2 separate regions of the Homo sapiens genome follow, and region 1 is linked to region 2. The links come from fine-mapping of genetic effects on gene expression. Tissue or cell type: nucleus accumbens. Region 2 holds a variant in brackets; the other region holds the start of a gene. All regions are shown on one strand. Distances are between the middles of the regions.

What was found. PIP is the estimated chance that this variant, and not a neighbour inherited with it, causes the effect.
Region 1: it holds the start of SCIN, and the variant in region 2 is the best candidate, but not a certain one, in a credible set for the expression of SCIN in nucleus accumbens (GTEx, PIP 0.74).

What each region holds. Positions count from the first base shown.
Region 1 is chr7:12,567,826-12,573,206 of GRCh38, reverse strand. It overlaps SCIN (scinderin), which reads right to left and starts at 2,487. Exons shown (of 16, transcript NM_001112706.3): 1 at 2,222-2,487. The coding sequence starts at 2,420. It overlaps LOC107986768, which reads left to right. Exons shown (of 3, transcript XR_007060635.1): 3 at 1,826-5,381.
Region 2 is chr7:12,515,606-12,520,986 of GRCh38, reverse strand. The region is part of intron 1 of C7orf78 (chromosome 7 open reading frame 78); the gene reads right to left. Among named protein-coding and RNA genes, the nearest start is that of C7orf78, 14 kb to the right of the region's middle. RefSeq lists an enhancer at 1,687-1,786. The variant T/C (reference allele first, on the strand shown) is at 2,637.

The DNA.
Region 1 (5,381 bases), 52 kb before region 2:
TCCTCATGGATTCATCCTAATTTAGGTCTTAGACTACACTATTTTGGATGAAATTCTGTTTTCTTAGGGAACTGAAGTAGGAAGAGCTGTTGGGCAATCCCATCTGAAAGTCCTGTTGACTATTTTACTTGAAGCTTTTTTTCTCTCCATAATTCTCTCTTGACACAAGAACACTTCCAAGTACTCTCATTTTTTTTTTCTCTAAAGGCTTCTGTTTCCCAATAACCACAGAAACTTTGTGCTTTCACAGTAATTATCACATTCTACCTGTGTTATATCACTTTTTGTCTTTTTGCACCTTTGAGGTGATGAACTTTTAGAGAAGTTTCATTAATTATTCATATCCACAAGTGCCTTGTACAGTACTGGCCATATTGAATAATTACTGAATGAATTTGCTTGTTATTAACATGTTATTGACTTCAGTTTTAGCATGTCTTTAAGATTATAAATGTTTCTGCCCAAACCATTTTCTATTATATTTTTGAAATTTATGGGCATCAAGTGGATAATTAAGTAGATAATTAAGTGAATAAGGTGAATCTGTAAACCCTACAAAATATAGTAGTTAAGAGGACAACTTGGATAAAAATGTATAGAATTAAAGAATTGTGTTCAAATCTCCCTTGCGGTCATCTGACAAAGTCAAACTTAACTGCTGTCTACAGTAAGATATGGCATTATTTCACATTTTAATTTACTCAAATGGCAAATGTGGCATTTCAAACACTTTCATTCATGCTAGATTTAAGTTCTGCATGGAAAGTCCTCTGTAAGGACATCATTATTCTATCTGGCATCATTCATTCTTGAACATGGGTTATAAAAGTTTCAGTCTTTTCTGGCAGAAAATACAAATAGATGACTGTGTATTACAACATTATAATAGGAATAACAGCAATGCATCAAGAAGCCAAAATGTGTTCAGAACTCAGGCTGAGCCTTCTCTGCCTCCTCAAGCTAACACAAATTTTTGACTCCAAATGTTATAATTAAAAGTCTTATCTTCATCTACGTATTTTTCATTTCTCATTTCTCAAATGCCTGTTCCAGGTGTTTGCCAATGTTTAGACAGTCACTACTCAATGTTTTCTATTATTTTGTTTCTTAAAATCTTCAAATGTTGGAAATTACAGTGTTGGCTTTCAGGGACTCAAAAATGTGTAAGTGTGTGTGGTTTTGTGTGTTTTCCTCCTAAGCTCAGGGATAAAACTAAACAAACACGAGTACTGGGCAGGCTAGCTAGTTTTAAAAGAAGGCAAAAAGGCTCAGAGAATCGGCATGTTGTTAGACAGGGTGTGCCCACTGGCACAAGACCTCCTGGGGAGAGGCTGGACATTCAGGATGTTTATGAGTAAAAGTAGAAGGTGGAAAAAGAACACACAAGGCCCAGTGTCCTGACAGCCTGGCACGAACGCAGCTCAAAATAATTACTACTGCTGAAGGAGCCGTTTCTGTTCCATCTTGTGTCCTTGCTAAAATAAATAATAAATAATAACAATAAAGCAGTCTACATAAATATATGAAATACCCATATAGAGCTATTTATTTGTATATAAAATATCTGTATTTTTTTCTTACTTCTATCTGAGGACGCCAGCTTCCGAATGAAGCGGAGTTTTTGTCTACCAGACCCACAAGCAGCATGGTGCGGGTAGAATCCTGTTTTAAAGAAGCCCAGAACAATAATTCCCGCAATCATAGAGAAAATAAGCCAGTGCCCGAAAGCAACAAATAAAAATAATGTGTGAAGAAAAAGAAAAGGACTTCTTCCTAGCGGCGGCAGATGCCCCCAGACTTTATGACTTCCTCTCCATCCCGACAGGGAAAGCAGGACTGAGTTTGTCGGAAGGTGAGCGGGGCTTGGCCAGAGACGGTGTGCGCTGAGGCAGCGGCCCTGGACAAGAGTGGCGTTTGGATACTTGACGGTGAAAGGGGAAGAAGCCAGTCACCAGCTCCAAAGTCCAGGAACTACACCTGGCAAAGGTCAAAGCCTGCGAGGTAAGTCAATTGCGGACAACGCCTGAGCCCCGCGTTTGCAGCCGGCGAGTTGACTTCGGTAGGGAGAAAGTGGCCGGCCCCAAAGGGCAGCCCCGTGGGGGCGCGAGTGGCTAGCTCAGTTTGCGGTCCCCTTTACTCCCACGCCTGCAAATCTCAGACCCCTACGCCCTCCCCTCGCCGGCCTTGGTGCGTCGGGGTCCCGCCGCCCGCCGTCCCTTACCGAGCCAGAAGTGCAGGTGGTAGGTGAAGCCTCGGCTCGTCTTGGCCGTGTGCAGCACCAGGTAGGCATCCCCGACGTAGAAGTCGCCGTGAGCGCTCTGGGGCACGGGCACCAGCTCCAGCTTCTCAATCCTCCAGACCTGCAGCCCCGCCTGCTTGCCCGCCCGGGCGAACTCTTCGTGGTATAGCTCCCGCGCCATGGCTCCTGCACGCGATGCTCCGGGGGACGCGTGATATCGCTGATCTTGGACTAAACCGAGAGCAGCAGGAGGAACCTTATTCGCCGCCACTTTATAGTGTTTGCCATCCGGGGAGGCGGCGCCCTGAAACGGGAGGGGCTAAGTGCCCAGGCGCGAGTTGACAGAGGAGACGATCGCTTCCCACGGGGAGCGCAGCGCTGGCTTCCAAGCTCCCACGCCTTGCCCCAGGCCAGGAGCGGAATCGGCGTCCCAGAAGTCTTGAGATTCAGAGGGAGTTTATAGTAACTCGTGCCAATGCCTCCTCCAAGGAAAGACATTTTCTCTAGCAATAGACGAAGAACATTAACGGTTAAAACTGCTTGGCACTCCTTTGTGCATACCCATCACTACCGTCCTGCATATTTCCCCTTCTCTCGCTAATCCTCTTATTTCTGGATCTCAGTTGTGCCTGGCAGGAGGGGTGAGGTGAGGAAAGAGCGCGCCAGCCCTGCAGAGTTGAGTCAGCGTTTACTCGGGTGGAGCAATACCTGTTCTTTCTGGCCCTCTAGAATAATTCTTAGAACAAGGCTTCCTCTGCTAATAGCAACACCTGCCGTTAGGCAGCAGAGGAGTGTGCCACATTAGCATGCTGGAATAATTTTAATACATCCTTCTTTAAAAAATGGGCTTTTTGAGTAACAAGCATCCTAATGATCAATTCTGTCATTTCATTGGGCAATCTCTGCATTCCTGACGACCAAAGTTTCTGTCTCGATCTTCCAGTTTGAAAATACCATGAAAAACAGCATGTCAGATTTCTTGGACAGGAAGAAAACCTGGAAGAATGGCAGTATTACCCCAGGTGACAGAGCTCTGTAAATCTCAGAGTTCAGGAGCTGTGGTTGAGCTCTCTTAACACCTGCTTCCTTTGGCCAAGAAAGATGAAAACAACAACAAAAACCCAGCAGCCGCCGTCCTGAGATGTTCTCTGCAGGGCTGTTTGTGGCTGTAATTTTATGCTTGGCCGGACTTCTGGGTTACCTGTTACCTAGCTTCAAGGTGATAATTTTCTTTGTTTTACCTACAGGTTTTGCTTTTGCAGCATGGCTAAAACACTATGGAATACAGATGGAAATTTTACTCTTGATTTGGCATTCATTTAACAAGCTGGTATAGCAAAGGATTCTGTTACTGAAAAAGGCAAATCACTCAGGATGTATAGAGTAAGAAAGCTGAATTTCATGCATGTAAAATTGTTTTCATTCAATTTCTCAAATTACATGAATCCCTGGAAGGTCAATAATAATGCAAAATTAGATTTTTTTCCTTAATTAAATTATGTTTTTAATAGGTTATTACATGACCATGGTAAAAAAATTAAAAGTACAAAATGTGTGCAATAAAAAATTATCTCCATTTCACCCTGCCACCCAGTTGCTTTCCCCAAAGGCAATTACGTTACCAGTTTCTTATGTATTTTTCCAGGCACTCAAATTTTGTCAACAAGAATATAGGTAATGTAGTTATTTTAAATTTTTAACAGAAAATGTAACATATAACCTTTTCGAATCCCCCCCCGTGTGTGTGTGTGTGTGTGTGTGTGTGTGTGTGTGTGTGTGTGTGTCTGTGTATCAACACACAGTACTCATAGAGCTACCGGTTTTTACTGACCATATGGTATTCCACTTTATAAACATACTAATTTATTTTGTCTATCTCAGTTCATAGTGTAGGGGCCAAGGGAAAACTTCCCCTCTACCCTCTGAAGTTTCACTGAAAAATCAAGTCACAAAAGGCAGATTAACAGGACAAATGGCATACAAATTTATCAGCGGGCATGGGGGAGAATCACAGAGTGATTGGCCAATATCCCAATGAGGTACAGAGGGTTGTACCTCCTTATTAGAGGAAAGGCAGATGGGTGATGTATGGGTGATTTGGGGGGTTAGAAAATGATTTTTAGGGGAATTCAATGTGTTTGAAGAACATACAGTGGCCTGAGACAAAGTATGTTAAGCCTGCAGAGCTCTCCGTGTGTGTTGACAGACTTCAGTCTTTCTTTCTGCAATATGAGTTCAGTTTGTGGAAAGTCAGGGAAGAGACCAGAGGTAACTGTTTTCTTCTTTGGCAAGTCGAGACTTTAGGCAGATAAGGGAACTTCAGAGAATACCTTCATTCTGTGCTTTGGGAAAGAGAGGATTGGTGAAGGAAGGTCAAAGAAAACTTAAGCCTTCTTCATTTCAGCATGTCAAAGTGTCACATTTTGTGGTATTGGTTTCTGAGCCCCAACACTAGGCATTTAAATTTTGTGTATATTTTGCCAATACAGTGTTACAAATAGCATATTGAACATACTTTATTATGCATTCGCAGTATTATAATTGAGATAAAACCCTGGAAATATAATTGGTTGGGATTAAATAGCTTTTATGTAGTGACGATAATTATGAAACCAATTACTACCACTTACTGATCTTTGACAATAACAGGCTATAGTACACATTACCTTGATTCAATTCCTGCTTTCATCCTTAGTTCTGAGACTTTCAGGAAGTTACTTAACTACACACAGCCAGCCTCATGTTCCTCATCTCTAAAATGGGAAAATAATAATATTTGCCTTATAAGATTATTTGGTTTAAATGAGTCGACACATATAAGGTATTTGTGTCTGTTACACAGAAAACACTCAATAATTAGGAACAATTTTTATGTGGTGGTGAGCTTCCTTTTGCTCCTTTAGATATCTTCTCTATCCTGCACCCTTCCACCTTCCCTTGAGGTTGATCTACAAGAGCTAAATCAAGTGGGCTCTGATGTCCTCTGGCTTGAGGCTTGGTTGGAGACCAGAGGGAGAAAAGAGAGTGAGGCTGGAGTATTTATTTCCTTGGCTCCTTCAGCAAAAAGTCACTGTTCTTTTAAAGGCGAATAACTGTGTCTGACTTTTTGTCTCCTGTTGGGTTATAGCAACTCTCCCCTCAC
Region 2 (5,381 bases):
AAAAGAGACAAAGAAGGCCATTACATAATGATTAAGAAGTATATTAAGGAAGAAGATATAACAATAGCAAATATATGTGCATCCAGCACCCAAATATATAAAACAAATATTATTTGATCTAAAGGGAGAGATAGACAGCAATACAATAATAGTAAGGGACCTCAAAACTCCACTTTTAGAAATAAACAGAACTTCTAGACAAAATCCATGAAGAAGTATCAAAGTTAAACTGCATTCTAGAGCAAATAAACCTAACAGACGTTTACAGAACATTCCACCCAGTAACTAACAATGTATGTTCTTCTCATTCGCAAATGTAACCGTCTCCAGGATAGATCATAAGTTAGGCCACAAAGCAAGTCTAAACAAATTAAAAAGGATTAAAAACATAGAAAGTATCTTTTCTGACTACAGTGGAATAAAACTAGAAATCAATAACAGAAAGAACTTTGGAAACTATACAAATACATGGAAATTAAGCAACACGCTCTTGAATAACAAATGAGGCAAAGAAAAAATTTAAAAATTTATTGAAACAAATGAAAATGGAAATACAACACACCAAAACCTATGGGATACAGCAAAAGCAGTTCTAAGAAGGAAGTTTACAGCAATAAATATCCGCATCAATAAATTAGAAATATCTTGAATGTAGAGACAGCTTCAAGATGCTGACTAGAGGCATCGGGCACTTGCCTTCTCCAGACAGAAGAAACAAAACTTAACCAAATAGATAATCACATTTCAGATAAAACATCTAGTAGAGAACACCGGAGTCCAAAAGAGAAATATCTGAGACACAGAAGGGGAAGAAAGCAAGGGGTTAGCTTGGCCAAGATTGGCTGTGAGCCCATAGGGGCTCCTTTTTGCAGAGAAAGGGTAAGTGGGATACCCTCATTGGCTTACATCCTCACTGTGGACTGCTGCAATCCCAACCATTGGAGAGCTCCTGTACCCACATTAACCCTAAGACTAGTGTGGGTGTTCATCTGGAGACCCAATGAGGGCATTGTACCAGATAGAAAATGCACTGGGTCACACACACTCCTGAGATCTAAGTGGCTACAGCATGGCACCACTGTGAGAGCCTAGCCATCACCATTCTGCATCCTGCTCTGGGAACAACAGCTGTCCCATCTCCACATCCTGGGAACCTCTGTTTATATCCCCTGGTGTCCACCCAGAGGGCTACGGAGGCACAGCATTGGCTGAGCCCAAAGATGCTTGGGGTCCCCAGTACTTTAGTCCAACAGAGTACTACTCCCTGGGGAAAAAAAATGGTGCAGCACACCAAGGAGGTGGCCACTGGGCACAAAGGAAGCCAAATTACATGCTTTCCAGAGCTGATGAGCTTTCTTTCTGGGGCTTTGATAAGTGACTCCACCTCTAACTGTGTCACATATTGTACTTGGGTTCACAGTGAGAGAGTGGGATCTTTCCCTCTACATGTGCACAGTGCCATAGCAGTTGTTGCCACTGGGAGCCAAGGCAAGCGGGTCTGAGAGCTGTCTGACTGGAGCTGGAAGGAGTGACCACAACCCTGCTGGCAGAGTGGACTCTGTGCTAGGATTTATGTATAGAGAATGGGATCTCTTTCCTTCTCTGCATTTCACTGCAGCTGCAGCTGCTCTTGCTGCCACTAGGGGCTGGATGGGCAAGAGAGGGCTGCTTGTCTGGGGCTGTGAGTTGCAACCATGTCCCCATTAGCAGTGTGGCCTGTGTTAAAGCTCACTCACAGAGGGTGGGGTTCTTTCTCACTTCTGCATGGTGCTGTTGCAGCTGCTGCCTCCAAGAGCAAATAAGTCTGAGAGCTACATGTTTGGGTTGTGGGTGGTGACCCTGTCCCCCTGCAGTATGGTCATGTGCTCTGGCTACCAATAGAGGGTGGGATCCTCATCTCCATCTTCTGCACAGTGCTGAAGCCACTACTGCAGCAGGGAGCTGAAACAAGTGCAACCTAGAACTGGAGACTCCCTGTGCCAATCCAGCCCATACCAGCAGCACGGGTTCTGTACTCTAGTGCACATCCTCAAATCAGGCTCCTCACACTCACCACTGCAGTCACTGCTGCTGCCAGAGATTAAATATTCACTTCCCAGAGCCTGAGAGCTGCTTGTAGGAGACTGCTGATAGCAACCTACCCATACAAACAGCAGGGCCACTATGCTTTCTAGTACAAGCCCTAAGGTCAGGTATCCACACCAACCATCACAGACTGTCTCAACCTGCCTACTACAGCCTATCCCCCTGCACACCATCAGGCGCCTGAGGACAGACACTCCCAAATTGGCACCACACCTCCAAGCCTGAGCACACCACCCAAGGACTTGGTGATTATTCTATCTATTCCACCACCTATACCATCTATTTTATCCCCCTAGGAACCTGAAGATGGGCCCACTCACCTTGCTGCCAACAGCACAAACACACACTCACATGTGCCATCTAGGAGCTCGGGGAGGGGTCTGCTCAGCCAATCACAGCCACTGCCAACACCAGTGAGCACTGCTCAGGAATAAGACAGTCATCTTACCACTGCTACTGCCATGGCCCACACCATGCTGTCTGCACATGGGGCTGAAAACCAGTACACCCACCTGGCTCACCACTGCCATTACCAGCATCTGGGCAAGACA[T/C]GTGGAGGCCTGATAATTGGCTCAACTGGACAACTAACACCAGTGCCAGCATACACCACCCAGGGGGCTAAAGGACAGGTATACTCAGCCTACTGCTGCAACCACTTGGGCCTGAAGACTGACCTACCTGCAATCCCTTTTCCCAGAAAATCTCCACCATAGCCTCCACTAATGACCCTAAGCCACTGAGGAAATCACAGATACCACTAACATTGTTTGTAGGCAAAGAAATCATATAGAGACTACACTACTGCACACATTCAGAATCAAAGCCAAATGGCCCCAACAAACATCATAGATAAATTTTTAGGAAAAAGCCCTAAACTCAAAAGAAAATTCAAAAAATTCAAAGAAGACATAGATGCATAGATATGTAGGGACACAGAAAACATGAAAGAGCAAGAAATATGACACCCCCAAAGGAATAAAATAATTCTCCAGCAACAGATCCCAATCAAAAAAATTTCACAAAATCCCAGAAAAAGAATTCAAAATACTGATTTTAAAGGAGCTCAGCAAGATACAGGAGAATGCTGAAAAACAATACAAAGAAATCAGAAAAAATAATTCAGGATATGAATGAGAAATTTACCAAAGAGAAAAATATGATAAAAAAGAGCAAATGGAAATTCTAGAACTGAAGAGTTCATTTAATGAACTACAAAATATATTTGAAAGCTCCAACAATAGATTAAGCAGAAGAAAGAATCTCAGAACTTGAAGACAGGTCTTTTGAAATAACCCAGTCAGACAAAAATGAAAAAACAAAGAATAAAAAAGAATGAATGAAGCATTCATAACATATGGGACACTATAAAGCAAATGATATATGAATTTTTGTTATCTCAGAAGGTGAGGAGAGGACAAAAGTGTTCAAAAACCTATTTAGCAGAATAATAGCTGAAAAGTTCCAAAGTCTAGCAAGAGATTTAGACATCATATTAATCTGTTTTCATGCTGCCGATAAAAACATACTTGAGACTGAGAAGAAAAAGAGGTTTAATTGGACTTACAGTTCCTCATGGCTGGGGAGGCCTCAGAATCATGGTGGGAGGTGAAAGGCACTTCTTACATGGCGGTGGCAAGAGAAAATGAGAAAGATGCAAAAGCGGACACCCCTGATAAAACCACCAGATCTTGTGAGACTTATTCACTACCACAAAAACAGTATCGGGGAAACTGCACCCATGATTCAAATTATCTTCCACCGAGTCCCTCCCATAACACATGGGAATTATGGGAGTACAATTCAAGATGAGATTTGGGTGGGGACACAGTTAAACTATGTCATTCCACCCCTGGCCCCTCCAAATCTCATGTCCTCACATTTCAAAACCAATCATGCCTTCCCAACAATCTCCCAAAGTCTTAACTCATTTCAGCATTAAACCCAAAAGTCTACAGTCCAAAGTCTCATCTGAGACAAGGCAACTCCCTTCCGCCTATGAGCCTGTAAAATCAAAAGCAAGCTAGTTACTTCCTTGATACAATGGGGGTACAGGTATTTGGTAAATACAGCAGTTCCAAATGGGAGAAAGTGGCCAAAACAAAGGGGTTACAGGGCCCATGCAAGTCTGAAATCCATCTGGGCAGTCAAATTTTAAAGCCCCAAAATGATCTCCTTTGACTCCAGGTCTCACATCCAGGTCATGCTGATGCAAGAGGTGGGTTCCCATGGTGTTAGGCAGCTCCTCCCCTGTGGCTTTGCAGGGTACAGCTTTCCTCCCAGCTGCTTTCACGGGCTGGCATTGAGTGTCTGTGGCTTTTCCAGGCACATGGTGCAAGCTGTCAGTGGATCTACCATTCTGGGATCTGGAGGATGGTATCACTCTTCTCATAGCTCTAGTAGGCCATGCCCCAGTGGGGACTCTGTGTGGGGCCTCCCACAGCACATTACCCTTCTGCACTGTCCTAGCAGAGGTTCTCCATGAGTGCCCCGCTCCTGCAGCAAACTTCTGCTTGGGCATTCATGCATTTTCACACATCTTCTGAAATCTAGGTGGAGGTTCCCAAACCCCAGTTCTTGACTTCTGTGCACTCGCAGGTTCAACACCATATGAAAGCTGCCAAGGCTTGGGGCTTGCACCCTCTGAAGCCATTGCCCAAGCTCTACATTGGCCCCTTACAGCCAGGGCTGGAGCATCTGGGACATAGGGCACCAAGTCCCTAGGCTGCACGTAGTACAGAGACCCTGGGCCTGGCCCACAAAACCATTTTCTCTTAGGTCTCTGGGCCTGTGATGGGAGGGTCTGCTGTGAAGACATCTGACATACCCTAGAGACATTTTCCCCATTCTCTTGGGAATTAACATTTGGCTCCTTGTTACTTATGTAAATTTCTGCAGCCAGGTTGAATTTCTCCTCAGAAAATGGGTTTTTCTTTTCTATCACATTGTCAGGCTGCAAATTTTCTGAACTTTTATGCTCTGCTTCCCTTATAAAACTGAATGCCTTTAACAGCATCGAAGTCACATCTTAAATGCTTGGCTGCTTAGAAATTTCTTCTGCCAGATACCCTAAATCTTCTCTCTAAAGTTCAAAATTCCACAAATCTCTAGGGCAGGAGCAAAATGCCACCCGTCTCTTTGCTAAAACAAAACAAGAGTCACCTTTGCTCCAGTTCCCAACAAGTTCCTCATCTCCATCTGAGACCACCTCAGTCTGGACCTTATTGTCCATATCACTATCAGGCTTTTGATCAAAGCCATTCAACAAGTCTCTAGGAATTTCCAAACTTTCACACATT